Regions from separate parts of the Homo sapiens genome. Here all the other regions are linked to region 5. Evidence: fine-mapped expression QTL. A gene starts in region 5. Each other region holds a variant in brackets. All regions are shown on one strand. Distances are from middle to middle. Region 1 overlaps ZFAT (zinc finger and AT-hook domain containing). Region 2 overlaps ZFAT (zinc finger and AT-hook domain containing). Region 3 overlaps ZFAT (zinc finger and AT-hook domain containing). Region 4 has its middle 250 kb from the start of LINC03024. Region 5 holds the start of ZFAT (zinc finger and AT-hook domain containing). Region 6 has its middle 96 kb from the start of NCRNA00250. Region 7 overlaps LOC124902071.

The links. PIP is the estimated chance that this variant, and not a neighbour inherited with it, causes the effect.
Region 1: its variant is fine-mapped to the expression of ZFAT in sigmoid colon (GTEx, PIP above 0.99).
Region 2: its variant is fine-mapped to the expression of ZFAT in transverse colon (GTEx, PIP above 0.99). The same link has a PIP of 0.9 or more in esophagus muscle, lung, prostate and subcutaneous fat.
Region 3: its variant is fine-mapped to the expression of ZFAT in whole blood (TOPMed, PIP 0.94).
Region 4: its variant is fine-mapped to the expression of ZFAT in gastroesophageal junction (GTEx, PIP above 0.99).
Region 6: its variant is fine-mapped to the expression of ZFAT in whole blood (INTERVAL, PIP above 0.99).
Region 7: its variant is fine-mapped to the expression of ZFAT in whole blood (TOPMed, PIP 0.95).

Annotation. Positions count from the first base shown.
Region 1 is chr8:134,491,025-134,495,426 of GRCh38, forward strand. The region is part of intron 15 of ZFAT (zinc finger and AT-hook domain containing); the gene reads right to left. Among named protein-coding and RNA genes, the nearest start is that of ZFAT, 220 kb to the right of the region's middle. The variant C/G (reference allele first, on the strand shown) is at 2,702.
Region 2 is chr8:134,496,553-134,500,954 of GRCh38, forward strand. All of the region lies in intron 15 of ZFAT (zinc finger and AT-hook domain containing), which reads right to left. Among named protein-coding and RNA genes, the nearest start is that of ZFAT, 210 kb to the right of the region's middle. RefSeq lists an enhancer at 3,956-4,402. The variant G/C (reference allele first, on the strand shown) is at 1,707.
Region 3 is chr8:134,655,588-134,659,989 of GRCh38, forward strand. It overlaps ZFAT (zinc finger and AT-hook domain containing), which reads right to left. Exons shown (of 16, transcript NM_020863.4): 2 at 1,974-2,150. Among named protein-coding and RNA genes, the nearest start is that of ZFAT, 55 kb to the right of the region's middle. The variant C/T (reference allele first, on the strand shown) is at 1,980.
Region 4 is chr8:133,927,901-133,932,302 of GRCh38, forward strand. No RefSeq gene overlaps it. Among named protein-coding and RNA genes, the nearest start is that of LINC03024, 250 kb to the left of the region's middle. The variant G/A (reference allele first, on the strand shown) is at 1,732.
Region 5 is chr8:134,710,468-134,714,869 of GRCh38, forward strand. ZFAT (zinc finger and AT-hook domain containing) reads right to left here and starts at 2,564. Exons shown (of 16, transcript NM_020863.4): 1 at 2,378-2,564. The coding sequence starts at 2,396. RefSeq lists an enhancer at 2,396-2,575.
Region 6 is chr8:134,931,696-134,936,097 of GRCh38, forward strand. No RefSeq gene overlaps it. Among named protein-coding and RNA genes, the nearest start is that of NCRNA00250, 96 kb to the left of the region's middle. The variant A/T (reference allele first, on the strand shown) is at 2,335.
Region 7 is chr8:134,757,831-134,762,232 of GRCh38, forward strand. All of the region lies in intron 2 of LOC124902071, which reads left to right. It also overlaps a transcript of ZFAT not described here. Among named protein-coding and RNA genes, the nearest start is that of MIR30B, 41 kb to the right of the region's middle. The variant CA/C (reference allele first, on the strand shown) is at 1,925.

The DNA.
Region 1 (4,402 bases), 220 kb before region 5:
AGAATGTCCCTCACAACCAAGAATTGTTCTGTTCTCACCATGACTTCTAAATTTTTCTCCCAAACAGTCACAAGGATAAAAATAAACAATAACAACAACCTTATTTATGATGATCTGAACCTAGAACCTAACTGTTTCACATGTAAACACAGAGTACTGAGTCTGTGTGCTGCATTCTTCTAGAAATACAACTTCTGTTTCCAGCAAGGGAAGACTGTACTTCATTTGCTCTACGAAAGCCCTCCGGCATCAGCGATGCTGCTCACACTAGTAGTCTCACCCTCAAGTCACAATGTGCTCTTGGCCTGTGCTTGTGGCTGGTGCACCCAGAGTGGACACTACGCTTAGGAGAAGGCACCTGACCACATTGTTAGGTTTTTATTTCATTTTCTTATTGTTGCTTTAACCAATTACTAGAAATTTAGCAGCTTAAAACAACACAAATGTATCATTTTTCAGTTCTAGAGTTCAGAAGTTTGAAATGGGTCTCACTGAGCTAAAATCAACATTTCAGCAGGGCTGTGATCCCGGCTGGAGACTTTAAGAGAGAATCCACTTTCTTGGCTTTTCCAGCTTCTAGAGACCCCTGCATTCCTTGGCTTGTGGCCTGCTTCCATCTTCAAAGCCAACGACATTTGGTGGAGTCTTTCTTACGATGTCATCTCTCTGGTTCTGACCCTACTGCCTTCCTCTTCCCCATTTAAGGACACGTGTGATCACACTGAGCCCATGTGCATAATCCAGGATAATCTCCCCATCTTGGATTCAGCTAATTAGCAACCTTAATTCCCGCTTGCCATGTAAAACTTAACATATTTGTAGGTTCTGTGGATGAGGACGTGGACATCTCTGGGGCACCACTGTCCTGCCAACCACTGTATCTTGGTATAGTCATGTCTGAATATTAAAATACTCAATTTTTTATTTTATAATTAATAACTTTCCATTTACTTCTTGTTATTTCAGTTAGGACACTAGAGTTTTTTTGTTTTTGTTTTTGTTTTTTGTTTTTTTTTTCAGTCATGCATGTGTAGGAATCTATGAATTTCATTTCAGGTGAGTAAAAGGAGTGTTATAAGGTAGTCATTATTCAAGGGGAGTCCTGGGTCCATCGGGCTGAGACTCCACGTGCTACGGCAAGCAACTGCCCTCCTAGGAAGAGCTGCCCTGCTGTTGCCCAGCCCTGCATGTGACTAGATGGCTCAACTGGTCTCCAATTCCTCTTCCTCTCCTGTTGTTCTCATTACCATCTGATTCACTCATGTCTTGTTTCTCAGATGCTTCCATACCTCGAGATCAAAGGAAAGCGTGCAATTCATTATTTCCTCCCAAATGGCCAACATCTTCTATGGTCCCTTCCACTCAGAAATTCGTAGACTCCATGTTATGGTAAGAATTAGAGGACTGCAGACAAAAGTCCAAATACAACCTAACAACAAGAATGAAAAAAGAATCTACCTGCAGTCGATTCTTACAGGTAGAATATTCCCCTGTGTGTGTTTAAGCTCTGGGGAAGAAGCCTTATTTTTTCCAGGGATTAGGGCTTCACTCACTGCTTAAATTATAACCAAGCAATAGCTTCCTTTTCATTCTCAAAAGGGGGACTGGCAGGACCATTTTACAAGGTTAACAAGTAAGGACATTTGCTTTCACAACCCTAGGTGAAGAGTGGAGTTGTATAAGTCAGAAACAAAGGGAAACAGCAAACACAATCCTGAATTTATAGAGGAAAGAAAATGCATAAATGAATGTGGTTTGTAAAAAACATCATAAATTCCTAACTCCAGAAATATATACCTGCACAGGACAAAAAGAAGGGTGTTCTGAGGGGGCAATATGTGCAAGAAACTTGTGGAAATATCAGGAGATATTCACAGGCAGGAAGAAGCCATTCCATACATCAACGGAGATTTAAAGCCTTTTAGGGAGGAAAGAATGCACAGGAAGTGAGGAAGGCCATGATTCATCCCACTGTCAGGCTAGACACCTTTCATGGAGGAAGACAGTATAATGCTGCCTCTCCACCCTATTTTTTGTCTTGGTTGTAAGTAGACAGCAGACATATTTTCTTTCCCGAAGGTATCAATCCCATGCACAGTGCAAAGCCTAAGCTGTAAAGGCCACCTGCTAATGGCAGTCACCACCCATTTCCTGTGTCACCTGGGTCTCTGCAACACTGAGACTCCACTACCGGCCAACACAGCTGCAACCCTGTTTCCTAAGCCCCAGGCACTGGAGAGCTCTGCTGCCACCTGCAACACGGACTTGTCCACCAGGTCCCTGGGCCTGAGGGGAACGGGAAGGGCCAGCTCTCTTCATTGAGAGAGAAGGGCCTTCGAAACAGGCTGAGAGGAGCAATGCAGGCTTCCTGGCCTCAGTGCTGTAAGAAGAGGATGAAAAGGTTTCCATACTGGCCAAACCAACTCACTGGGCAACAGAAAGAGGATGCCCATGACTAGAACATCTTGTACCTCTTGCATGTCTCGGCAGTCTAGGCATTGCTTAGTTTGATCTGAATAATCATTTGACTAGAAAAGGAAACCTTCTCTCGTAAATTGTGGGAAACTAGAGAGCTCCACATGGTAGAGAGAGTGCATGGGAATGAAGAGACGGCGGGGCAGGGGGCAGTGCCTGGCACAGGGCAGGTGCGTGAGGCACGGCACTCATGACTGCTTCTGGATGCCGGCCCTCCTTGGAGGAA[C/G]GGTCTGCTGCCCCCTTCCCTCCCCGGCTGAGCCAAGCTCCCATGCACTTAAGCTGCTGCCCGTGTGCTTCACATATCCCCTCCACACCATCATGCCATGGCCATATGGCACCCAGCTTATAGTAGGCACTCAATAAACACTGAATTGAATTATTCAAATGTGGACCCCAGGAGATATTTCAAAGCTGTGCTAAAACAGTTCAGAGCAGATTCACTAAGAAAGGGAAGGAGGCAGGCAGAGTTCCCCCCTCCTCACAAATATCTTTTGATATTTAGACACATTTATTGTGCATAATACTTGACTTTCTTCCCCTTTAAGTGCACATACACTGAATCTCTATTTGATTTAGTGCCAGGCCTGGCGTGGCAGCTCTACAGCATTGCCCGGTCCTCACACAGGGAGCACTCTCTTCCCTACACATTCTCCTCCCTCCACACCCCTGCCTGGTGATCCCTGCACAGCTGTGCGGCTGTTGGGGTTGGGCAAACCTTTCAGCTTTTTCTCACCCAAGTCCCCTCCACTGTACTTTAGGAGTAGTTTCCTTTGTACATTTCCACCTGCCTGACTTTCACAAAATCACCCCCGTGACCATCCTTGCAGGCCCCGGCCTTTCTCTTTGCTGGTGGCTTTGTCAGCCTGAAGGGCAGCAGGTGCTCGATAAAGCTGCGGGGACAGGATCGATCCGCTGCCCTTTAGTGGGCCATCTCGAGGACACTGTCTCGGTGCCTGCTGGGGAAGCGCCTGGCTCCTTTCCTCAGCTGACGCACACTCTTCTCCCCCTAATTAAGCAATCTGCTTCCACTAGCAGTTTCTTTCCCAGTACTTGAACATGAGTGACCTGAAGCCTCCACGGAACCCCACCAGGGCCTTGCTGGTAACCGAGCAGTGAAGGAAAACGGAGCTGGCAGGACCCAGGTCGTATTCCTCCCTGGATAACCACAGAGCAACAGCCCTTGCCCAAGGTAGAAAAACCAAACTCCCAGGAATAAAGTGTTTTTATTTTTTGTTTAAAATATGTTTATCATAACAAAACATAAACCATTTAAATCACTCATCAAACTTATCGAGGTAAGTTCATTAGTAGCAAGTACATCTAAGAACAGAAAAAGAAACTATCTCTTCTTGTTTTGAGCACCAGTGAAGCTTTGACATTCACCCTACTGGTGTTGACATGACAGTCTCCGATCTTATGCTGAAACCCCAGAAAGACACCAGCTCCTGCTCTTCAAATCCACATGACCCACGTACTTCTCTCTCAGAGTAGGAAGATCTACTTAATTCTACTTAATTCGACTCTCTTTTGGCCTGGTCTTAAGTCTCTCTCACACAGAACCACCACCTGCCCAGCTCCCCTGACTTTGGGCAATGTCCCTCAGCATCTGCAATTCCAAAGCAGCCTGGTCTCAGCTCAGGCTGCTGTCACAAAGCAGCACAGGTTGAGTGACTTATAAACAACAGAAATCTATCTCCCATAGTTCTGGCGGCTAGAAGTCTGAGATCAGGGAGCCAGCATGGTTAGGTTACAGTGCGGGCCCCTCTTCCAAGGGCAGATTATTGACCTGTAATTGTGTTCTGACATGGTGGAAAGAGAGAGATCAAGCTCTCTCCTCTCTTATTAAGGCACTCATCGCATTCATGGGGCTCCACTCACACGACCTAATCATCTCCCAAAGAACCCATCTCCAAATACCATCATTTTG
Region 2 (4,402 bases), 210 kb before region 5:
GCCCCACTAGCTCAGCTTCCCAACATCTGATCTGGAATTCACGGTTTTGAATGCGTATGAAGCCTCTAAAATGTACCAGGCCCTGAGCCAAGTGCTAGAGATCCCAGAGATGGGTGAGACCAAATTGTCACCTGCTCTCATGGAGCTTCCAGTTTGCTGGGGGGAAAAGCCATGTGTATAACCAACCACACTAGATATGGTTTGTGACACAGTTCCTAAGAACTGTGACGGGGTGAGGGAGGGTACTCCTCCCCGTGGCCCCATCTTCACCACTGCCTGGAGAGGGAGGAGAGCTTCTGCCCCTCTGAAAATATTCCCTTCCTAATTGCCCCCTCAGGGCAGGAAGGACCTGACAATCCAACAGCTGAAGCTGACCACCGGGTCTAACCTGATGTGTCCTAACGGGCAGGGGTTATCCTGACATGCAGGGACCCCCGCCCCCATAGGTCGTGCTCCTTCTTGGAGTGTTTGCTTTTATGCAGAGGCAGCTGCTCCCGGATCTTGCGCCTCCCACAGTCAGCACGGGCGGGGTAGGTCTTCTTGAAACATCCCACCATGAAGCAAGAAGGAAAGTGGAGGGAAAGAGGTGGGCACCTTGCTGTCAGGCCTGGTGGGCGATGGAGAGCTTCTATTCTAAGTTTACTGGAGACGTTCTGAGTTATTGGAGGATTTTAAAGTAAGGGTTGCTGTGATGTAATGATACTTCTAAAAGATCGCCCTGGCTTCTATGTGAAAACTGCATCTCAGAGCAGCAGGATGGAAAGAGAACAGCATCCTCTGTGAGCCAGAGGAGGGGGACTGACAGCTGAGAACAGGCTTCTAAAATTCTAATGTGCAGGATGCCCCTGCTGCTGGTTACACACAGAGCCTGATTTGGTAGGGTTGGGGTGGAGCCGTGATGCCCCTGCTGCTGGTTACACACAGAGCCTGATTTGGTAGGGTTGGGGTGGAGCCGGGATGCCCCAGCTGCTGGTTACACACAGAGCCGATTTGGTAGGGTTGGGGTGGAGCCGGGATGCCCCAGCTGCTGGTTACACACAGAGCCTGATTTCGTAGGGTTGGGGTGGAGCCGTGATGCCCCTGCTGCTGGTTACACACAGAGCCTGATTTGGTAGGGTTGGGGTGGAGCCAGGATGCCCCCGCTGCTGGTTACACACACAGCCTGATTTGGTAGGGTTGGGGTGGAGCCGTGATGCCCCTGCTGCTGGTTACACACAGAGCCTGATTTGGTAGGGTTGGGGTGGAGCCGGGATGCCCCAGCAGCTGGTTACACACAGAGCCTGATTTGGTAGGGTTGGGGTGGAGCCGGGATGCCCCAGCTGCTGGTTACACACAGAGCCTGATTTGGTAGGGTTGGGGTGGAGCCGTGATGCCCCTGCTGCTGGTTACACACAGAGCCTGATTTGGTAGGGTTGGGGTGGAGCCAGGATGCCCCCGCTGCTGGTTACACACAGGGCCTGATTTGGTAGGGTTGGGGTGGAGCCGTGATGCCCCTGCTGCTGGTTACACACAGAGCCTGATTTGGGAGGGTTGTGGTGGAGCTGGGATGCCCCCGTTGCTGGTTACACACAGAGCCTGATTTGGTAGGGCTGGGGTGGAGCTGGGATGCCCCCGTTGCTGGTTACACACAGAGCCTGATTTGGTAGGGTTGGGGTGGAGCTGGGATGCCCCCGTTGCTGGTTACACACAGAGCCTGATTTGGTAGG[G/C]TTGGGGTGGAGCCGTGATGCCCCTGCTGCTGGTTACACACAGAGCCTGATTTTGTAGGGTTGGGGTGGAGCTGGGATGCCCCCGTTGCTGGTTACACACACAGCCTGATTTGGTAGGGTTGGGGTGGAACTGGGATGCCCCCGTTGCTGGTTACACACAGAGCCTGATTTGGTAGGGTCGGGGTGGAGCTGGGATGCCCCCGTTGCTGGTTACACACAGAGCCTGATTTGGTAGGGTTGGGGTGGAACTGGGATGCCCCCGTTGCTGGTTACACACAGAGCCTGATTTGGTAGGGTCGGGGTGGAGCTGGGATGCCCCCGTTGCTGGTTACACACAGAGCCTGATTTGGTAGGGTCGGGGTGGAGCTGGGATGCCCCCGTTGCTGGTTACACACAGAGCCTGATTTGGTAGGGTTGGGGTGGAGCTGGGATGCCCCCGTTGCTGGTTACACACACAGCCTGATTTGGTAGGGTTGGGGTGGAGCTGGGATGCCCCCGTTGCTGGTTACACACAGAGCCTGATTTGGTAGGGTCGGGGTGGAGCTGGGATGCCCCCCGTTGCTGGTTACACACAGAGCCTGATTTGGTAGGGTCGGGGTGGAGCTGGGATGCCCCCGTTGCTGGTTACACACACAGCCTGATTTGGTAGGGTTGGGGTGGAACTGGGATGCCCCCGTTGCTGGTTACACACAGAGCCTGATTTGGTAGGGTCGGGGTGGAGCTGGGATGCCCCCGTTGCTGGTTACACACAGAGCCTGATTTGGTAGGGTCGGGGTGGAGCTGGGATGCCCCCGTTGCTGGTTACACACAGAGCCTGATTTGGTAGGGTCGGGGTGGAGCTGGGATGCCCCCGTTGCTGGTTACACACAGAGCCTGATTTGGTAGGGTTGGCGTGGAGCTGGGATGCCCCTGCTGCTGGTTACACACAGAGCCTGATTTGGGAGGGTTGGGGTGGAGCTGGGATGCCCCCGTTGCTGGTTACACACAGAGCCTGATTTGGTAGGGTCGGGGTGGAGCTGGGATGCCCCCGTTGCTGGTTACACACAGAGCCTGATTTGGTAGGGTCGGGGTGGAGCTGGGATGCCCCAGCTGCTGGTTACACACAGAGCCTGATTTGGGAGGGTTGTGGTGGAGCTGGGATGCCCCCGTTGCTGGTTACACACAGAGCGTGATTTGGTAGGGTTGGCACGGAGCTGGGATGCCCCCGTTGCTGGTTACACACAGAGCCTGATTTGGTAGGGTTGGCATGGAGCTGGGATGCCCCCGTTGCTGGTTACACACAGAGCCTGATTTGGTAGGGTCGGGGTGGAGCTGGGATGCCCCCGCTGCTGGTTACACACAGAGCCTGATTTGGGAGGGTCGGGGTGGAGCCGTGATGCCCCCGTTGCTGGTTACACACAGAGCCTGATTTGGGAGGGGTGCGGTGGAGCCAGCGACTCTGCATTTCTCACAAGCCCCCTGATGCTGACACTGCTGGCCGGGGGACTACGTTTTGAGTAGCAAGGGCTTAACTGAAGGCGGTAAGGCCGGGGGCCAGAGGGACATTTGAGGCCCCTTGTGAAGCAGGAGGCCACCACATGTGCTGACAGGGCAGACGTCCGGTGGGAGAGGCAAGGAGGCAAGAGGCCCTCCACCAGCTGGGGACACCAGATGGATAGGAGGAGTAGGAAGGAGGGGGACACTAAGAGTTCTTGTTTCCGGGAATCCCTCCGGCCAGGATGGAGACTACTGTTCTGGTGGGAATGAAAAACAAGGGCCAGCCTGAGGCAGGACAAGTCTACAGAGGGCCCGCAGCGCTCTCCTCCATATGCGGGACAGCTCTGCCTCACTCCCGTCAGGGCTATTACAGCCTGGCCTTGACCCCAAACTTGAAATAGACCAAGTGATCTCAGCCAGCAAGGACAACTTCCCAGGGTGAAGCTGCCTGGAGGGGAGATGTCAATTAAAACCGACCTGCCTTGGCTAAGGACATGGGTCAGGAAACAGGCACCAAGCAAACAGTAATAAACTCAGCAGTATTAAAACTCAAATAAAGTGGGATTCTGCAAATAGCACCAACCAAGGCTGTAGCTTCTTGGGGCATAATAACAGAAAGATGGGGACTTAGGAAAAGGAAGAAAAGTGAAGTTGGATAGATGAGCATACTCAGGTTAGCTAAGGATGGCTTGCATGGGAAAAAGGCACCATAATGAAACAGAGAATAACCTTTGTTCTCTATGTTTTCAGACCATTTCTCATATGGCCACAGATATATCATGGGGCCTATTTTTACTTTAAAAATTTCACAAAGAAATGGAATTTTCTGTAACTACTATGGTGTAAGAGAGCTCAGCAAGTAACAAAAGAGCTTTGGGAAAGGATGCAATGTGGAGTAGCAGCCATCCAAAGTCATACCAGAAGCAGAAGTCTCTGAAAAAAGTTTTAGTTAAGACAAAGAAAAAGAAAAGGTTCAAACAACCACAGGAGAACTAGGAAAGGCCTACAAAGGACAAGAGCTGGCATTAAGTGACAAGGGAGAGTAACCTATTGCCAAGACTCTGAATGAACTTTTTGTTTCTGAATCTACATGCTAAAGATCACCATTCCGCAACAACAGAAAGAACATTATATAAGGAATGCCAAGTATGAGAACACTTTTAAGAGGCTACCTGCATGTATAATTAGGAGTTTCATACAATTAAAGTTGGCAGAGGCCC
Region 3 (4,402 bases), 55 kb before region 5:
CAGTGAGCCAAGATCACGCCACTGCATTCGAGCCTGGGCAACAGAGTGAGACTCAGTCTCAAAAAGAAAATGAAAAAAATAAAAATTAAAATTTCTCTCTTATCTACAACTCATTTAGAAAGAAGAGAATCTTAATAAGCAAAGAACTAAAAGCTTTGCAAGAGCCAGTCTAGAAGTTCTTTCCACCTTGATCCACATGGCTTCGATCTGCCATATGAATTGGACAAGAGACATTATCCATTTTTCTGAGTCCATATACATTCAACCCCAGAGGCAGGTACCCAGATGAAACCCTGTCTCTACAAAAAATACAAAACTTAGCTGGGTGTGGTGGCGGGCACCTGTAGTCACAGCTGCTCAGGTGGCTGAGGTGAGAGGAATGCTTGAGCCCAAAAGGCGGAGGTGACTAAACACAGTTCTTGACTAAAGCCCTCTCTGTGAAGCTATACTCTTCAGAAAGCAAGTCACTGACTGCTCAGCAGGGAAGTGGGCCATGGAGAGTGTGGGTGTCACAAAGCTTCTGGCCAGGGGTCAGGACTCACACAGGCTGGGTGGGCAGAGGGAGGGCGCTGAACTGCAAGGCCCCTGGCACCAAGGAGGTTCTGACTCTCACTGTCCCATGCAAACTTTCCTCCTCTACCCCAAAGCAAAGGGTCTCAAGTGTGCGCTACTGGTTGAGACGCAATTACACATAACTTTCCTCCTCACTCCTGCTTCCTCTAAATGGGGAGAGGACAGGTCTGCTCACAAGGCCTGTGAGGGGCTGAGCACGCCATGGACACACACCCTATTAGCTGACGGTGATGACAGAAGTAAGAAATACTAACTGCTGCTCCTTATTCACCCACCACTAGCTTCGGGTGCTGCATCTTTTTCATTTTTCACTTTATGCCACTAACAGTAACTCTCAGAACTTCCTAACTTCCCAAAAACTTAATCTTCTGTCAGGCATGTTTCTCTGAGAACCCTGGGAATGACCAGAGGGACTTATTAACCAAAACATTTTTTGTCTGGAATCTCTCCTTGTTAATGGTGTCCGACAGATGATGAATAGCCAGCCTATTTAGAAATGCCAGCCTGAATATTCCCAGGAAAGAGCCAGTGGATTATTAGTGTGGCTGATGAACTCTGCAATGGGACACTGACTGCTATGCATTGGGCTTCTGCACAGGTGCCCAGCTGCTGTCCTTTATCTTAGTGTTTTGTGAGGATCTTTGCAGCGGTTCCTCATGTGCTATATGTTTTCTCTGTCTGTGGGGACCTAATTACAGTGCCTGGATGGTTTCTCTGATCCGTGCACCTGCTGCATCGGATAACCACACAGTGACAGATGTCCAGACACTACAGACAAGATGCATCTCACTTTGCACGCTGACTGTGAACCCAAAGGATTCTGTGCAAATCAAAGCTTTGCAATGTGAATCCTTGTTCCAGGTTTATAGGAACAGTTGGAAAATGCTGTAAGATTATATAGACTTATTTATTAATCATGTACGTTAGAACAACAGCTTCCTTTTATCATGTTCTGTGTGCCAGGCATCATCTTAGGTCCTGTAGGCATATTCTTTAACTTCATCCTCACAGACCCCCTTGTAACCAGCATATTTCTCATCATTTGTCCAGATAAGCAAAGTGAGGCTTGGAGAAGTAACATCATTGGCTTCAGGTAATGCAGCCAGTAGGTACTAGGGCTGGGTTAAACCCACACTTGTCTGACAACAAGCTCATGTTTTTCACACTATTGAATACTGCCACTTCCATTCATTCTTTCATTCATTCATTTGCCAACCTACAGGGGGCTAGGTATGGGATTTCAAAGGCACAATCTTATTTGAGCATATCTACAATTGGAGACTTATTGTGACTTCTGATTTGGAAATGTGGATTTTCTAGGCTTCTGCTATGCCCACGGAGCAAATCAACATCAACAGGTGTGTCAGAAGGTATCCTGCCCCACCCCCCAGCCCCCTTACCATCTC[C/T]GGTTTTGCTTGAGTTGGGGGGTTCAGGTGTACTCAGAGGCCTAAGGGGAATAATAATCTCATCAACATTAACCCCTTCTTCCATGTGCTTCTCTGAAACGTGGGAGAGGAGTTCCGACTGATTTGGTGAGAAGAGGTTACAACATTTACACATAAAGATGGCCGTGTTTTCTGTAAGGAAAAAAAAGGAAAATATGTTATTTCATCTCCACATAAACAATTATTACTTCCAATTGCCAAAGACAATACCGAAAGCTGCCCTTCTGAGCCATCACCAGCCTCTACCAGATTGTGTCTCTCTGGCAGTCACCTCCATGGCAGGCCACTCACTTTCATCTTCAGGGAGATCCAGGGGCCAGAAAGTTCTTTATTCAGTATCTCAACCCTCAGTCCTTCTGGATAGTGTCTAATACAAACCTTCTTGTTACCCAAATCTACTCATCAGCCCAGATTCTGGGATAAGTACAGCCAAGTAAAAAATAAATATGCGGCCGGGCGCGGTGGCGCACGCCTGTAATCCCAGCACTTTGGGAGGCCGAGGCGGGCGGAGCACAAGGTCAGGAGATCGAGACCATCCTGGCTAACATGGTGAAATCTCGTCTCTACTAAAAATACAAAAAATTAGCCAGGCATGGCAGCGTGCACCTGTAGGCCCAGCTACTCGGGAGGCTGAGGCAGGAGGATGGCGTGAACCCGGGAGGTGAAGCTTGCAGTGAGCCGAGATCACGCCACTGCACTCCAGCCTGGGCGACAGAGCGAGATTCTGTCTCCAAAAAAAAAAAAATTTGCAACTTAAAAAACTAAATCCTACCCCTCAAATGACTGAACTGCACACTGATGGCAATTAAGCAGTCTTGCTAGATTCTCTCAAATTACGCACAAGGAAAAGTTGACCACAATAGCATTTCTCAACAGCCCAGCACCTTTCAATGAAACGGCAGGAATTTGTTGCCTTTTTAAAGCCACTGAATTCCTATTTAAAGCACTCTCATTGTTCAAAAAATTTACCAATAGTTCATTATGTTCATCTCATTATACTAGGCAGGAAGACATAATAAGGGAAATAAAACACTCACTTTTTAGACTGATAAAATAATTATAGGTATATACAAAATATTAAATTCAGGATTCAATAACAATTAAAAGCCAGATCTTTGTATTATTATTTTTACATTCAGACTGAAAGGAAGTGGCTTTGTCCACTGAAAAGGACAATGGCTTTGGAGCCAAAAGGCCCAGGTTAAATTCCCAACTCGTCCCTAAATGCTGGAAAGCTGAGGACCTCAGAGAAGCAGTCATCTGTCAGTTGCTGGAATCCATAGGAACTTTGGGGATGGAACTTGCCTATTCAGCAGCAAGAACCCAGCAGACACTCAGAAAGCACAACACTGACTCGGCGCAACTCTGCACCCATGGTGTGCCCTCGCCCAGCAGCTGGACGGCTGGCAATCCACACCTGGCTCCCTTCGGCATCCCCCTCACCAGCCTCCTGGGGAGGCTCAACGCTGCCTGGAAGTCACATGCAACTTCTACGCCATTTACTGCCTGGTGATGCTGGACAAATACATGGCAATCATACAAGCTCTGCGCTCTCTGGTGATGGTGAGCAAGTATCTCATCCTCCTCGCTCCTCACTCTCAACAGCTGACCTTGCTTCATATCTCACTGCAAGCAGCCAGAAAACAACTGCCTCTGCCACCCCTTCCAGCCCGCCTGCGTCTTCAGCTGTCTCCCCACCTCGCTCCTGCTGGTTTGAAGGTGGGCATAGTGAGGGGGACACAAGGTGTGCGGGTGAGAGCAGTGGCCCACCCCAGAGCAGGGCTATCATATCTCTGATATTGTCTGGAATTGCTGGTTCATGGAGATACTAAAAGCAGACCAACACTTCACTTGTGTGATCATTACTTTCAAATTCTCTAAAGATAGCGCATGCCTGATTGCCTGCACCCAGGAAGATGCTCCCACATCCCTGTGTGAGAAGGCTACTAGACAAAGGGTGCATGATGGCTTGTGCGTGCAGAACTCACCCTCTCTGATGATTGTTCTCCAGGTCATCAATTCTTCCCTCTGTACTAGATCTTTCCATTGGCCTATAAGCATACTCTTATTCTCCCATCTTAAAATGAAAACAACTCCTGATCCCCACTCCCCCAACCCATTTCTCTCCTCTTTACAGTAAAACTCTCCTACCAGAAAGAGGAAATGAGGAAAGGCAATAGGCCAACCCAGCCTTGCTGGCATGAAGGTGGAGCTCTTGGAAGGCACTGGAGTCCCAGGAGCAAGCCCCTCCCTGGGTTCACAGAAAGACTTTCTCCGTGAATTAGCAGGGAGGTAACGACCTGAGAGAATTCTTTCCTACCAACAACACATGAAATCAAAATTTAACAAAGCAGAACATTGCTTCGCCAATGAAAATCTCTCAC
Region 4 (4,402 bases), 780 kb before region 5:
CATGTGCATTTCACAATAGGATTCATGCTCCTATGAGAATCTAATGCCACTGCTGATCTGACAGGAGGTGGAGCTCCAGTGGTAATGCAAGTGATGGGGAGTGGCTGTAAATACAAATGAAGCTTTGCCCACTCACCCACTGCTCATCTCCTACTGTGCAGGGGTTGGGGACCCCTGGGCGAGAGATTGGCAGGTAAAGGCACTGAGACACCAACACTGTATAGTGTTCTTCAAAAGGATATCAAATTTTGACTGCATAGATTTTTTCTTTTTGTTATATATTTCCCTATAGCAAGCATGACCATCCTGTTTCTGCTGGTCGGCTCCTGTGAATCTCTTACAATTGACTATTTCTTCTAAATTCCATACACCACTTCTGATAGTAGCAAATACTTTGGCCAGTTTCTTTGCTGTTAACATTCTTGGTGCCTCAGGTATAACTTCTCCTCCCTCTGCCTCAACTTCTTTACATTTTTTTTTTCCAGTTCAGTCTTCCAGGTCATCATTGGAAAGCTCTCCAGCCTCAATGCCAACAAGCTCGTGAGTATCCTCTTCATCATTGTCCAACTCTAGCAGTTCCCAAGCAGTAATATCTTGTGTTTGTTTTACTAATTTCATCCACAGCAGAATTTTTGTTAAAGCCTTTGAATGTGTTCACATATGTTTTCAAAACTGTCTTTCAAAAGCCATTTATTCATTGCTGTGTGACTTCTTCCCATACTGCAGTGATATTCTGGACAGTATTTAGGATGTTAAAACCTTCCTAAAACTCAGATTCAGTAAACTTCAGATACAGCCAGATTCAGTCACTTCAACAGCCTGCACAAACGTTTGGCATAAGTAGTGTGCTTTAAACACAGCTATTGTGCCTTGGTTTGTTGGTTGAATCAGTGCGGTTGTGTATGTGTGGTGGCAAATGCACAACTTTCACAGCAGGATGCATGTCCCCAATATGCTGTGGATGCCCTGGAGTATTGTCTAAGATCAGAAGAATCTCGAATGAGATGTTGTTTTGCCTACAATATTCTCTTGCCTGTGGAATAAAACTGTTCAAAACCAGTCTTCAAACAATGCAGATGTCACCCAGGGTTTCTTGTTATAGAGCTAATAAAGGGAAATGCATACTTGCTCACGTTTGTGAATGCTCTAGGGTTCCCCATGGTAGATTAGGAAAGTCTTTTATTTGCACCTTGCAATACTTCCATCCCAAAGCAGCATTACACAGTTCTTGAATGCCTTGATCCTGGCATTGTTTGGACTTTTGATGAGTGTATGTACTCTCCAGCATATGCTTCCAGAACAAGCTTGTTTTATTGACATTAAATATTTGTTTCAGCAAATATTTCTAATTCACAATTACCCTCTGCAGCCCTTTCTTAAGAGCTTCAACACCTTCAGTATTGGCACTTGCTGCCTCACTACTGACCTTCACGTTATAAAAATTAAAATGACTTACGAAGGATTGGAACTGCCCGTGCCTTGCTATAAGCATGTTGTGTACATGAGGTCACTGAAACTCTCTTTTAGTGTATTGAAAACACTTCTTGCCTTAGTCTGGACCATTAGGAGAATAAGTGGTGTGGACTTCTGTATCTGGTCTTCTGTCCACATGACAAGTAATTTTTTCATATCATAAATCTGCTCAGCTCTTTTCTTCATGGTGATGATGGATTTAACCAATGCTGACAATTTCACGCATTACTGATTTACTTCTTTTCCTTTAAGACGGCC[G/A]AGATAGTGGATTGTGAAAGTCCTAACTCCTCTTGCACTGGTCATTACTGGCTTGCTGCCTTTATGCCAGGCAATTATCTTGAGTTTCATCTCAAGAGTAATTGCCTTTCTTTTCTTCTCACCAGAAGCAGGAGATACAGATGGGCATTTTGTAGACATGATGGGATGTGAAAACACTAAACACTGTTTACCGCTCTGATCCTGTGGCTGACTGGGAGCTGTGGCTTGCTACAGCATCATGGCAGAGTAATGCTAGCACAGGAAAAGATCAAAATTCAAAATGTGGTTTCTAGTGAATGCATATCACTTTTGTGTCATGATAATGTAAAAAAAGTCAAGTCAAAACATCATAAGTTGGGGACCATCTATAGTCTGTTTTATAAAACCTTTATAAAATTTATTTCTCTCCATTGACCTCGTTAATATTACAAGAATGTTACCTGAATTCCACTCACACCCATCTAACCTCTAACCAGATTAAGAAATAGAACAATCCTGGAATCCCATAAACTCTTCTTAGGCTGTGACCTGCTACTCCCTCTTCCCAGAGGCAACCACAGTCCTTGCTTCTCTTGCTCCAGATTAATTATGCTGGTTTATAAACTGTGTATTAGGTTATAATATGGTATCCACTTATTATACCTAGTGTTTTTCCCTAATGACATGACTATGTACTTTATTATGTGGTTGTATGTAACAAAGTTTAACTCATTTCCATGGGTGTTTTGTTTCCCATTGTATGGACATAACATCATTTGTTGATCCATTTCTTATGACAGACATGTGGGTGGCTACCAGTTTGGGGCTTGTCATAGGTCGTGTTTCCTAGAAGCATAACTTAAGACAGGAATTCCTGTACAAGTGATTCACTGAGAAGCCGTTTTTAGAAGAAACCAGTAATGAGGTGAAGGAAGCAGGATGGGGAAAGTTCTGTGGCTAGGGGAGAAGCTAAGGGTAAATGTGGGTTCAGGTAAAGCCCAGCCCCAGTCTGATCCTGTAGGAAGCTCTGGAGCATAAATTCCACCACGGAATCTGGCCTGCCTTAAGGAAAGAGAGTGAGGCTTTTGCTTTCTCCAGTGGTCAGTCCTGGCTCCGGGCCACCCAAGGTGGTGCATATGAATTTACCTCTTAGGAAGTTTTGGGGAAGGCAGTCCCAATTGCTCAGGGCAGTGCTCTGAGGAGGTTGCAGGTACAAGCCATTGACAGTGGCCACTGCAACAGGAAAGCAGATGACATCCGGGGGTCATTTTTAACAGCGTCCACTTCAGCTGATATAAAACATGCTGCTATTGGGGTCAGGACTAGTGTGAGGCAAGGGAGGCACCTAGGGAACAAAATTTAAAGAACCAAGCACCCTCAAGGCTCTGCAAAGTGCAGGATCAGCACTTACATGATCCTGAGAATGACAGCCTATTTCAATTGTGCACCCTAGGTGCCTTGCTGACCTCACCCTAGTCCAGGACTTGCTGCTATGAACACTTTGCACTTCTTTAGTGCATATATGCCTATGCATCTGCTGGATATAGACTCAGGAGTGGCATTGCTAAGCCATAGAGTATGTGGGTATGTTTATATCCAGCTTTAGTAGATATGGCCTAACAGTTTTTCAAAAACGGTTGTATCAATTTTCACACCCACTATCAGAGTATTGAATTCCAGTGCTACACATTCTTTGTATTTTCAGTTTTTCTAATTTTAGCCATTCTGGTCAGATATATTGTTATCTCAGTGGGTTTAATTTGCATTTTCTTGATTACTAGTGACATTGAACACATTTTCATATTCATTGATTATGCATTGTTTAGTGCTTTTGTTTTTTATTCGTCCAATTGTGTTTGTTCTCTGATTTTTATTGATTTATAGGAGGGAGAGAGAGAGAGAGAGAGAGAGAGAGAGAGAGAAAAGACAGAGAGCATTATCCTGGACACAAATTCTTTATAGATAATATTTATTGAAAACATCTTGTTCCCACCCTGTGGCTTTCTATTTACTCATTTAATGGCATCTTTTGATGAACAGAAGTTCCTAATTTTAATATAGTCCAACTCTTAGCAATCTTTTTTTATAAGGTTTTCTTATTTTTGTGTTCTGTGTAAGAAACCGTCACTACCCCGAGGTTATGTATATTTTAATTTATCTTCTAGAAGTTTTATAGTTTATATTTAAATAAATTTTTATTTTACGGTAGCCTTAGATTTCCAGACAAGCTGTAAAGATAATGCAGAAAGTTCCTATGTATTCTTCACTCAGTTTCCCCTATGGTTAGCATCTTATATTACTGTGGCACATTCACCACAGCTAGTGAATCAAATACTGATGCATTATTATTAACTAAAGTCCTTACTTTATTGAGATTTTCTTAGTTTTTTCCAATATCTTTTTTTTTAATTTTTGAGACAATGTCTTGCTCCATCACCCAGGCTGGAGTGCAGCGGCATGGTCTCAGCTCACTGCAATCTCTGCCTCCCCGATTCAAGTGATTCTCCTGCCTCCGCCTCCTGAATAGCTGGGATTACAGGCACCTGCCAACACGTCTGGCTAATTTTTGTATTTTAGATGGGGTCTCGCCATGTTGTCTAGACTGGTCCCAAATCCAATATCTTTTATCTGTTTCAGAATCCCACTCAGGATACCACATCATGTTTAGTCTTCATGTCTGCTTAGACACCTA
Region 5 (4,402 bases):
CATTTGCCCCAACTTCTTTGGACGTACCTATGATCCAGCATAGCGCATGTATCTAAATTGCAATCCCCTATTATTCCCAAATAAACTACAGTTTCAGGATCCCATATCCAAAATGCTTGGGACCAGAAGTTTTAGAATTCCAGATGTTTTTGGATTTTGGAATATTTGCATATACATAGTGAGATAACCTGAGGATGGGACCCAAGTCTAAACATGAAATTTATTTATGTTTGATGTGCACCTTATACACACAGTCTGAAGGTAATTTTACAATATTTTTAATTTTGATCATGAAACAAAGTGTACAATGAACCATCAGAAAGCAAAGGTGTCACTATCTCAGCCACACATATGGGCAATCTGTGGTTGTCTGGCATCGCCATCATTCCCGACTCTGAATTTCTATGCTACCAATAAGACAATCACTTTCTTACATTTATTTACACATAAGTCCTTACCAGTAAAAAATATGACACACCATTAATACAGTGAAAAACAAGGTGTTCAAGGTACCTAAGCGGCACAGCAGCATCACCAGAACACATGCATCAGCTGCTAAACAACAGAACAATAAACAACGGCTGGCTTTAAGTCTGCTGTTCAGCCTGCATTTCTTTCTGAGTGTTAACAGCATCGTCTTTACAGTTGTGCAACTGTTGTTTTGTTTTGTTTTTTGAGAAAAATAGAGATGGGGTTTCACTACACTGCCCAGGCTGGTCTTGAACTCCTGGACTCAAGGGACCCTCCCGCCTCAGACTCCCAGAGTGCTGGGATTACAGGCGTGAGCTACTGCGCCCGGCTATGGAACTGCATTTCTGCTGAGAACCTTCACGAGGTCAGATAGAAAATTTTCCACTGTGGCCTCATGTCAGTGCTCAAAGTTTCAGACTTTGGAGCATTTCCGATTTCGGATTTTTGGATTAGGGATGCTCAACCTGTATTTGGAGAGCAAGTCTCTCCGGTGCTCATTTTAGGCTAACCTAAGACAGCACACCTGAATCAGCTGGGCACCACAGCTAATCAGCGCACCTGTGGTCACAGCTACTTGGCAGGCTGAGGCGGGAGGTTTACCTGAGGGCGGGAGGCAGAGGTTGCAGTGACCCGAGATTGCACCATTGCACCCCGGCCTGAGTGATAGTGCGGGACTCTGTCCCAAAAAATTAAAAAAATTAAATTAAAAAAAAGCACGCCTGATATAGTTCGGGTCTCCTGACCCAATATTCGGCTCTGGGCCCACTCTGTCACTCCAGGACACATTCTCCCACATCTAGCACCGCAGCAGGTGGAGGCAGGACTACGACTGGGACTGCTCTTTACCCCTGCCTGGCGTGCAGAGGGGATCCTTGCAAAGCTGTTATTTGAACTAAAGTCAGGAAAGGTGTCCCTGGGGGTTAGAGGTAGGACACGCTACTTCCTTCAGCATGGGGACACACACTACAGATGTTTCAGTAGATGAACTGGTAGGCTCGGAAGATAAAGCTGGTGAGAGGCAGCTGTGCGGGGCATCTCCAAAAGGTCACTTGGACTCCAGCAAAAAAAGCCAGACTGATGGGCAGGCGTGATCAGTTAGCGCGTTCGTTCTTTCATTCACTAAGTATATAGTGAACACTTACATGAGCCAAGCCCTATTCTAAGAAGATGGAGGTACAAGTCAGGCGAGCACGCAGGAGTTTGGATTTTAGCCCAAGTTGGAGGAAGTTAATTTTTAAAGCCCCAGCTCTGTCGTTTTTAAACTGTGTAAAGTTGACCTCTCTGAACTTCTGTTCCTCATAATAAATGACCTACAAATTAGAGTTCTCAAGAGAGCTGAGCAGCAAAACGTGTTAAGTCAGTGCCCAAATGTGGAAGCTTGTGGTAATTACAGGTGAAGGACCCCAAGCTCAAGGTTAAATGACTTGCACCGGGTGTCAAGTGGAAGATCTGTCACTCTATTAGGTCCAGCCGGCGGCCGGGAAGCCTGCAGGAGGTACTCATTTCGCCAAGGAGGAATCCGAGGCCAGGCAAGAAGGAAGCCCCGCCAAGGTCCAGTCAAAGAGCTGGCATCGCCGGGATTCGAACCTCGCGCCCACTGCGTTCCGTCGCTGGCCCGCGCCCCAACGCCACCCATTGCCGTGGAAACGGCCGGGCGCATGCTCTCCCACTCGCTCCCGCCTTGCTTTTTTTTTTTTTTTGCGGCGGGATACCCCAGCGACTGAACGTGAGCCGCAGAACGCAACTACGTTCGCTCTCCTCCCCAGACCCGGATCCCTCCGCGGCCGGCGGCCGGCGGCCGGCGGCCGGCGCACTGCTTCCCGACTCGACGCTCGAAACGGCTTTCCGCGCGCCGCGCCGCGCCCCACCCCCACCCCGTCTCACCCCAACCCCCAGCCCGGCTCACCTGCCGCCCGCGTCTCCATGGCAACGCCCCACCGCGGAGGAAAAAAAAGCCTCGGGCTCTTCCGGGCCCCCTCCCGTGCCGACCGAGGGGGCGGGGCGCCCTGCTGACGCTTCGCTTTTTATTTTTATTTTTTTAAGAAAAGAGCCGGCGAGGTTATGGCGAATCTGCGGCATCCAACATGGCGGATGGAGTCTTCGCCCTCCTCCCCACGGGGCGCAGACGCCTGCGTAGCGGACGTCCGCTTCGGGTGACCCTCCCCCGGCGCCGAGCGCGGCCCGGCAGGGCCGAGCTAACGCGCATGCTCGCAGTCGGAGGCCGTGCTTTTTATCCCACTTCACGGATTCCGCTGCGCCGCGTTTTGAGCCACGCCCAGGGAGGGGCCCTCGGGAGGTCCGGAGCGCGGATCTCGGGGTCAGGAGTCTGGCGGTTGTGCCAGGCCTCTGCTAGCGCGACCCTAGACCCGCGGCATGTGGGGCCGCCGAGCTGGGCGTGCAAGGAGAGTTCTGGGTGCGCTTCGTGTCCCAGCTCTACCTCTCACTACCTAACTTGGGGCAGCGAATTAACTTTTCTTGCTCTCAGTTTACTGATGTGTCCATCGGGGTGCTCCCAACCTGCATCCCGCTCAAAGCTGCGGCGTTTCCCGAAGCGTGGGGTGCTTTCCTTTGGGCCACCCGGCTGGGTTTTAGGGGCTACAGAGCACTGAGCGGCCTACGATCACACGTGACAAGGCGACTTCCTCCTCTCTCGTCTCTTTTTGTCCCACAACAAGTCTGCACTGGATGTGCGCGCCTCCAACACCCGCTCATTCATTTCTCTGCTTGTGGCACAGCCTTCGGCAGGCAGCTGAGTCTGGTGGAAATTTAATGACTTTGTTTTTGGTTTTGATGTTAAGGTGTTTAGCTCCAACACTGTAGTCCTCGGCTCAAATGATATCTTCCAGCCCCTAACCCTCACCCCCCGAAACCCATCTAAAGTAACCCTCCAAGACACTTCATATTTTCTACGTAGCATCCATTCCTATCTGTCATTATCTCCCTCCCTTACCTCTGTCAATGGTCACCCCGTTAGCCTCAGAAACAAACTGAGCCTGACAGTTATTTATTTCATGAGTAATGAGTTGATGTGGTCCATGTTCTAAGGTCATTTTCTGTTCATGACAAATAACGTTTTTCACTTACAGTAGTCATATAAAGTTTTTAAATTGTTCGTTTACATTTTCAAAAATCAGTCAACTTAAAATGGTGTACATGCTGCAAAGACATGCCCCCCCCCCCCCAAAAAAAAAAAGTGTAAAAGCAGACTTCAGGAGACTGAAGTTTGGGAAACTGATTTGTGTTCATGGTTCCCCTGAAATGCTAGTCTTTGCCTGTTCTTCTTTTCCTGGAATAACCCTCTTTGGTTGCTGCTCAACATGAAATTCTCGGACAGCCCTGAAGTTCACACTTCATGTTCCCACAGCTCTGGTCTCACTGGCCTAGCTCCATCCCCCACTTCTCTGTTTGCACAGCGTTCATCCTCACTAGACTGAGCTTCCTGAGCAGCCCTTATAGGTCCTTTTCATCTTGTTTTCTCAGCGCCTGTTGCATAGTCATATTACTGAATGAACACTTCGTTCTGGGGTCACTTATTTTTTAGGAGGAAAACTCCCTTGGGCATTGAGCTTCAGGATGACTCATCTGATTTCTCAGGAGACTGCCCGCCTGCTCCTTAACCCTGTTCTTGGGAAATACGGAACCATGAAAAGACCCTAAAGTTGTCCAGTCTGTTAAATATATGCTCACAGATATAGCCTCCCCCTTCTTCATTTCATCCTCGCAATCTGGAAGGTTAAGTTGGGCAATATGATTATTGTCCTTTTCCAGATGAGAAAATGGAATGTTCAGAGTGGTCAAATGGCTTTCTGAGATTACACAGCAAAATAGTGAAGAGCCAGGTGTGGATCTCGCCTCTCCATGCCCAGTGTTCCTCTCCCCACCACATCTAAAATGTACCCAAACTGCCCCCCAGGCCTCCAGGAGAGCCTCC
Region 6 (4,402 bases), 220 kb after region 5:
AGGCAATGAAGGAGCAGCTTCTCTGTGATGACAGATAGCCTTGTTCTCTGTGTGTGTGTGTATATATATGTGTGGGCATGCATGAATGCATTCAGGAGTTATGGGAGGATATACCAAGTTGCATTGAGAGGATTTTAGTTTGACCTTTGAATTCATTAATTGTTGCTGGATCTTGACCAAGATAGCTCCATTGTGACCAGTGGATAAACATTCTTAGAGACATACTTGGAAGCATACAATTACAAAATAGTGTGTAGTAAACCTGCTTTAGGCTGTCCTGAATATTTTGAACACTGGGATGAGCTAATTTAGGCCCCCAAATCTTAGTAGCTTAACACAACAAAATTTATTTCTCATCAATGTTGCATGTCCATCATAGGTCATCTAGGGGTTCTGCCTTACTCTGGGACTCAGGTTGGTAGAGAGGCTGCTGTTCGCCAGTGACTATGACAGGAAAGACAAAGAGCATGATGAGCTTTGCACTGCTAAAAGTAAGACTGTCATCCATTTCTGCTTGTTTTTCAATGGCCAAAGCAAGTTGCATGGGCATGACTCTTTTCAATAGGGACAAGAATGTGCAATATCCTATGTAACCAGAAAGAAACAGAAACATAACATATGTGTAAGCAGCACTAGTAAAGTCGCTGATTTTGTTTTCCATTTTTGAAGAATTTTCTACTTTTTGAATTCTATCTTTCTAAGATTAAATTCAGAAACTCACTATGTTGGGTAAAATAATGGCCACCCAAAGATGTGCAGGTCCTAATCCCCAGAACCTATCAAATGTCAACTTGCATGGCAGAGAAGACTTTAAAGATTTGATTAAGTTAGTGATATCAAGATGGAGGATTATCTTGGATTATCTTGGAGGGCCCAAAGCAATCACAAGGGTCCTTATAAGCAGAGGGAAGCAAGAGAAGCATATTCAGAGGAGACGACATAAGGATGGAAGCAGAGGTCAGAATGATGTGAAGGGGACCATGAGCCAAGGAATGCAGGCAGCCTCTAGAAGCTGGAAAAGGCAAGTAATGGGTTCTCCCTTAGGGCTTCCAGAAGGAACACAGACTGCTCAATATCTTGATTTTTAGCCCATTGACACTTCTGACGTTGAGACTGAAAGAAAATAGATTTTTGCCATGTAAGCCACCAAGTGTATTATTAGGGTAGCAATAGCAAACTAATATACTCACTTTTCATGGTTCCTTTAAAGGTAGGATATAGTACATGGCCCAGTTTCTATTCCTCAGAAGGAATGACATCAAACTTGGATTTAAAAGTGGGACATAAAGAAGCAGACAAAACTTGAAATCCATTCTAGTGATGATGATGAAGAGACATTCAGGTTAAGGGGTGGACCTCTTGACTGTAGTAAACATGGTGTTAGTCAAGGTGACCATGTTAGGCCAGCAACACTGGGACTCCATCAGAGCCATCAGTGCAGTAAATAAGATTTTGTTACTGGATATATAGCCTTCAGGCATGATTTTAGGGCCCTCTCAGAAATTCTTTCATTGTCTAAGTTTCCTTTAATAAAAGACTGAATCAATTCTGTTGTTCGCAACTGAGAGCCCTGACAGATAGAGGTGTTTCAGTCATCTTTGGTTGCATCACAAACCACCCTCACATTTAGTGGCTTAAAACAATTAGTGGCATATTACTATTCATGATTTTCTGGGTTTATTGGGCAACTTTTCTTCTTCACGTTGCCTTGCTGGGGTGCTGAGAAGGCTTCCCTCATGTGGAAACTCAACTGGGAGCTCAGTTGGGGCTGGAACTTTGGGGGTGTCTAGAAGGCTGGAATCGTTGAGAGGCTTGACCAGAGCCTAGCTGGAGTTGTCAGGCAGGGGCCACAGTTCTCATTCATGTAGCCTTCTTGACGTGGCTGCTTGGGCTGCCTCATGACATGGTGGCTGGGTTTCTAGAAGAAACTTCTGAGAGGGAGGAAGCAGAAGTTGCCAGGCTAAATTACGGGCTAGCCCTAGAAAGGTTACAATGACAATTTTGTTATAATCTATTAGTGGGAAGGGACTCTATGAGGGCATGGATTCTGGAAGAAATAGTTCCTTGAAGGGTTACTAGGCAGCAGCCTACCACAGCACGGGATACATGCTCAAAGGATTATGAACTGTGAGAGCTAGAGGAGAGAGTGGCTGACTCTGCCTAAGGAAGGCAGAAGCAGCTTCATAGAGGAGGCGGCACTTGGGAAATAGCAATGCCTTGTCCAAACTCACAGAGGGTAAAAGGTTTTGAGGTATTTAGGGGGTCATGTTTTAGTCCAATTTTGGCTCTCGGAATATACAGTGAGCCATATGTGGGGTGAGTGAGAGGCCAAAT[A/T]GAAGGTGGGAGAGGCATGATGAAGCCACATTAAAAGCCACCAGTGCCTGACAAGGTGTCTATGACAGCTTGTAAGTAACAGAGAGTTTTAAGTAGAGAAGGGGTATGAGCAGATCTTTGTAAAAAGACTGAAGTGACAAATTAAATAATATACTTTACTTTTTTGTTTACATTTAATCACATTCTTCTTTTCACTCCATTTGAGACACATTTGGTTTATTTACCCAATAACAATAAATAAACACCTTACATTTGTCATGTGTTATAATGTGCAAGAGACTCTGTCTACTACCATGACTTCTGATTCAGAGCATGATGCAAAGAGTTCATCAGAATTGATGCTGCCCTCATTTCACCAGTATTCAGTCTTTTTCGCTGTGTAGAAATCAGCCATAGACTCCCACTAGTATAAAACAATGAGTATTTATTCCCTTTGTTCATGGGTTTTCTGATTGACTGTGGATAGGCTGATCTTGGCTAGGCTCCGTAGGGTGGCTCTGTGGGACTGGCTGAGCCTTGCTCCAGCCTGCAGGTTGAACTCAGTTCTGGGTCCTGGGCTGAAGGAATAGATACTGCACCTCAGGGAAGCTCAGGTCAAGGCAGATCACCAGAGCACAGAAGTAGGCTCAATGGCAGCCCAATCTCATCTCAATTCTCCCCTCCTGTCATGACAGCTAACATTCCGTTCCCTAAGGCAGGGCACATGGCCGAGTCAAAGCAAAGGCATGGCTAGGGAGGGTGAATGCAGAGTACTTGTACTGGGGTCTGAAGAACTGGATCCAATTCAGTCTGCCACTATGGAGAAAGAAATTTCAGCTTGAAGAAATTAAGGTTATTTCCGTGGATTTTATAGGACCTAAAGGTAAGTCTTTTGAGTCAAAACTACTTCTCCATTCATTACCCTGCCCTGTCACCAAACCAGATCTCATGAAAACCTCCAGTAGTATTTATCCTTCTATGTCTGGCTTATTTCACTTAGCATAATGTCCTCCAGCTCCATCCCTGTTCTCACCACTGGCAAGATTTTCTTATTTTTAATGACTGAATAACATTCCACTGAATGTATATAGCACATTTTCTTTATTCATTCGTCTTCCTGTGGACACTTTGGTTATTTCTATGTATTGGCTATTGAGAATAACGCTGCAATAAACATGAGAGTGCTGATAGTTCTTTGAGACCCTTATTTCAATTGCTGGGTATATAGATCTAGAAATGGGATTACCAGTTACTACAAAAGAAAGACACAAGTAAAAAAAATAAAGGGAGCAGGAGGACACTCTTGGAGATGATGCGTATGTTTATGGAATTGACTGTGGTGATGATTTCGCGAGTGTATACTTAATCTAAAGTCATCAGGGTGGCTCACAACTGTAATCCCAGCACTTTGGGAGGCCAGGGCAAGAGGATTGCTTGAATCCAGGAGTTCAAGACCAGCCTAGGCAACATAGCAAGGCCCTGTCTCAAAAAAACAAAACAAAAATACAACTTATCAGGTTGTATACATTAATTATGTACAGCTTTTGTATGTCAATCATACCCCAATAAAGTTGTCTAAAATAGAAGAAAAAAAGAAAACCTCCAGTGACACATTTTTCTCTAATCTTGTCTTTCTGTTTCTGGAGGTTTAGCTGTTTTCAAACTACAGAGCATGAACAACGACAGCTCACTATTTATCCCTCTGGGGGACCCCTTCTCTCTACAATCAATTCCACACCCCATTCTTGAGATGACACATCTCTCTGCAGGCCTTTGTCTACTCATCTGTAAAAAGATTAATTTTTCTGTCACATGTCTGTGGGGCAGCAGCTTCCTCCATACACAGGAACCATTTTGTTAGCTTTAGCAGGCTGCTCCGGAGCCTCTTCCTTGCAGCTCTATCCTGGACCACAGGCAGTGAAGTGATGGTGCTGTCAGAAATATAAGTCTTGTCCCAGGCACGTGCAGAGACGAAGGTGGTCTGCAGAGGAGAGGAAAGTCTTGCGCTGAGGGCCTTGGGCCGCTCAACCTTTTGTGGAGTATTATGTTTGGGTGGGGTCACTATAAAGTGGGGAGTCGTTCCTTGGGG
Region 7 (4,402 bases), 47 kb after region 5:
CAGTCATGGTCCCGAGGGGACCAGAGAGGGGAACAGCTCTCTTGGCAATTCAGATCGGCATTGTGGCTTTGGTTATTGTGCCTGCAAGCTCAACAGAGATCGATTTCTTCAACCCTTTCAATGATTCTGCAACTGACTGCTGATCAATCTGAAGTCAAATCTTCTGATTTCAAAACCTATATTCTGTCCTCAACACCATGTGATGACTAGCAGACTTGAGATTCCACGAACTCAAATGAACTAAATCAAGAGAAGGAAAAAGTATTGAAGTTGCAAGGATAAATGAGTTCAGTTTTAGACATAGGAGCTTGATGTACTAGTAAGACAGCCTGAGACCATCCAGCAGAAATGTGAGGGGGATTGGCTCTTATTAGCCTGGGGCTAGGAATGTAGATTTGGAGTTCTTTGCTAGAAAGCATGATCCTGGGTATGATCACCCAGGGTGAGTGCAGGAAGAGACCAGGACTACAGGTAAGAAAAAAGATACAGTGGAAAAAAACAAAACAAAACAAAACAGTCATTTGGGAATAAAACACTTGGGTTCAACTCTCCACTTTACCTCCTACTAGCTGTGTGATGTTGGGCAAATTACTTAACCTCTCTGTGCTTAGTTTAAGAGTCAGCACTAAGCATCTTGCTTTACTGGCTCCAATCTTTGGTTCTGTTTTGGGGAAGGTAGAGGAGGCTTATTGCCTAAGCTTGTTGTCCCTAGGCTTGTTGCCTCATGTTTGCAAAATGGCTTTTCATGGCCCTGGCCATTGTGTCTACATATAACCATGTTCAAGACAGAAAGAAAAGAAAGACATGGAATGGAAAAGCTGGTTTTCCTCCTACTAGGAGACAACTTGTCTCTGGCAACTTATCAGCGAATGTGTTCTTATATCTCATTGGCCAGGGTTGGGTTACAAGACCACCCTTTGTTGCATGGGAGTGCTGGGAGAGCAAATGTTCCATCAAGGATTCCTTTGACTGATACTGATCATGATCCATCCTGATCCGTGGCACATCACTGCCCCAAATAAAAGCATGATGTGGTGGTCCACCTCAAGGTGGGTGCTCCACCTCAGGGAACCAGTGATGTGGTGCTCCACCTTTGGGGCAATGATGTGCCATGAATCATGATGGATCCAGGATCCATGATCCACAGCCCATCACTGCCCCAAATAAAAGCAGTCATGTTAGCAAGGGAGAAGGGACTGACTATTGGAGTGACAAACAGCATTGTCTATCAAAACTCATGAAAGTCTTTCTTTAGGGAAAGGTATAAATTTTGAATGCTAGAATTCAGACACGAGGCAGGACTCATCAATAGAGGAGATGGCTTTACCAATGCTATATATTTGTATAGCACTATAAAGTTTATGAAAACTTACACAGGTTCTTATTTGACCCTCACAACGGACCTGGGAGGTAAGTCGAATTTTCATTTTGCAGATCCAGCAAGAGGGACTCAGAAATCATTAAGTGAGAGAAGGGTCAGGCCTCATTCTGGGCCAACATTCTTCCTACTGAGCCAGGTAGATTTGGGACCCCCATGAATAGGCAGCTACCTTGATGTAAATCCCAGGTTACCTCTTCTTCCACCACTGAAAGGCCTGGAACCCCAAGATTCCTATTATCTGGGACATCAAAATTCTGAACAGTAGTAAATTGCCAATTCAATATTGATAGTTTATAGCAAATCAAACCTTTGGTGGAGGGAGGATGGTGGTATTGAAAGAGAGTTGTGGTTTAGTATATGACCATAGGCAAAGAACATAATTATTCATTTAGGAAAAAAAAAATCAAGAAACAAACTGAAGAGTTTCAGGAAACTCTACAACTGAATTCATACTTAGAATTGAATTTTTAAAATAACTTCCCAGCTGGGCGCGATGGCTTATGCCTATAATCCCTGAAATTTGGGCGGCTGAGGCAAGTAGAT[CA/C]CCTGAGGTCAGGGGTTTGAGACTAGCCTGGCCAACATGGTGAAACTTCTACTAAAAATACAAAAATTAGCTGGATGTGATGGCAGGCACCTGTAATTCCAGCTACTCGGGAGACTGAGGTAGGAGAATTGCTTGAACCTGGGAGATGGAGGTTGCAGTGAGCCAAGATCATGCCACTGCACTCCAGACTGGGCAACAGAGCAGGACTCCGTCTCAAAAAAAAAAAAAAAAAAAACAAACAGAGGCCGGGTGCGGTGGCTCATGCCTGTAATCCCAGCACTTTGGGAGGCCAAGGCGGGCGGATCACAAGGTCAGGAGATTGAGACCACGGTGAAACCCCGTCTCTACTAAAAATACAAAAAATTAGCTGGGCGCAGTGACGGGCACCTGCAGTCCCAGCTACCCGGGAGGCTGAGGCAGAAGAATGGCATGAACCCAGGAGGCGGAGCTTGCAGTGAACCGAGATCATGCCACTGCACTCCAGCCTGGGCAACAGAGGGAGACTCCGTCTCAAAAAGAAAAAAAAAAAAAAACAAACAAAAAACAAACAAACAAACATCTTCCCATGGATTATAAGCAATGCAAAATGCTAAAGAACATCCATAGGGAAGAAAGTCAGAACCAGACCATTGATTTGGTAAACACAACAATTCTATTGGCAGGCCCAGATTACAAGGGATTAGAATGAGAGAGGACCACACTTACCTCATTTCTATCTGTTCTCTGTTGGAGAATCACTCAGGAATCACCCAGAAGACTAGATAAAATTGTCAGTCCTCTCCCATATATTGGAGAAGTTGCAGGAGTGGCGGGTGAGTGGGGGTGTGAGTGTGCAGATTTCTCAAGTACCCACAATGTGCAAAGCAGTACTAAATGCTGGGAGGAATAAAGGTGTGAATGAAAGTATCCATTCATTGATTTATTCAGTAACTATTCATTAACAAACATTTATTGAGATGTTTTATGTGTGCAGCATTGGGCTAGGTTCCAGGGATACTTTTCAAAAAGCAGTCTAATTGGTGAAGGAAGGAGGGGGATGGGATTACAATGAGAACATACGAGAATTTTAAATAAACATCTGCTCAAAGTTACAAGACAGGTGCTAACTGCTGTAAATACTAAGGGGAAAAATTCCAGCTGGATCTGGGATCCAGGAGAGGCTTCTTTCCTAAGTAAGCTGGGAATTGAGCTTGGTCTTAAAGGATGGTTAGGATTTTGATAGTATGGATGAGCAGACACCGGAAGGGATCACATGTTATAGTCTTTCCTGGTCTTTTATCTTAGAGGAGACAAACTGCCTATAGCAGATGTCAACAATGCACACAACTCTCCATAGTGAGACAAAGAGCCTGGTATGTACAGAAAGCCCTGCTGATTGGTGTTTCTCAAGCTCAAATCATTGTACTTTATCCTTTCCACTCCACAAATATCTATTGAGCCCCTACTGTGGGCTGAGCACTGCATGAGGCACTGAGGATACAACTATGAATGATACAGGCACAACCAAGACCTTCAAAGGACTGAGGGTATGATGGGAGGGAAGACAGAGCAAGCATTTGTGATACATGCATCTAGAGTTATGACAGTGGAAGAATGAGGGCTATGGAAACACATAGTAGGGGAGCTTAGCCCAATCTGGATTTTCTGTGCAATAAATCACAACAGGCCAGGCATGGTGGCTCACACCTGTAATTCCAGCACTTTGGGATGCTGAAGCCGGCAAATCACGAGATCAAGAGATCGAGATCATCCTGGCCAACATGGTGAAACCCCGTCTCTACTAAAAATACAAAAATTAACTAGGCATGGTGGCAAATGCCTGTAGTCCCAGCTACTTGGGAGGCTGAGGCAGGAGAATCGCTTGAACCTGGGAGGTGTAGGTTGCAGTGAGCCGAGATCGTGCCACTGCACTCCAGCCTGGCGACAAAGCGAGACTCCGTTTCAAAAAAAAAAAGTAAAATAAAATAAATTAATTAATCACAACAATAAGCACTTATTTTTCAACAATAAGTCACAACAATAACCACTTATTTTTCAACAATAAGTCACAACAATATGCACTTATTTTTCTCATTTATCAGCCCATGATCTTTTGGGGAGCTCCACTTCAGGTCGCAGGTTGGCTAAACTTGATTCAAGGTTCATATTAGGGCCAGATCCCCTCCTCATGTCTTCACATTTTTTCTGGACCAGCAGCTATTCAGTTCTCTCTCTCTTTCTCTCTGTATGTGTGTGTGTGTGTGTGTGTGTGTGTGTGCAAATGTGTGCTTTCCACAGGACCACAAGAGGCCAAGCCAAACTTCTCAAATACGTTTAAGGCCTTTGTTTGTGGCCCATCTTACAACACTCCATTGGCCAAAGTAAGTCATGAGCTAAGTCCAACATCAAGTAGGTTGAGACATATGCTCCACCCTCTCTCATGTACAGCAAGGACCCAAATCAGAGGGGCAGTAAATAACTAGGAACAATATCCAATC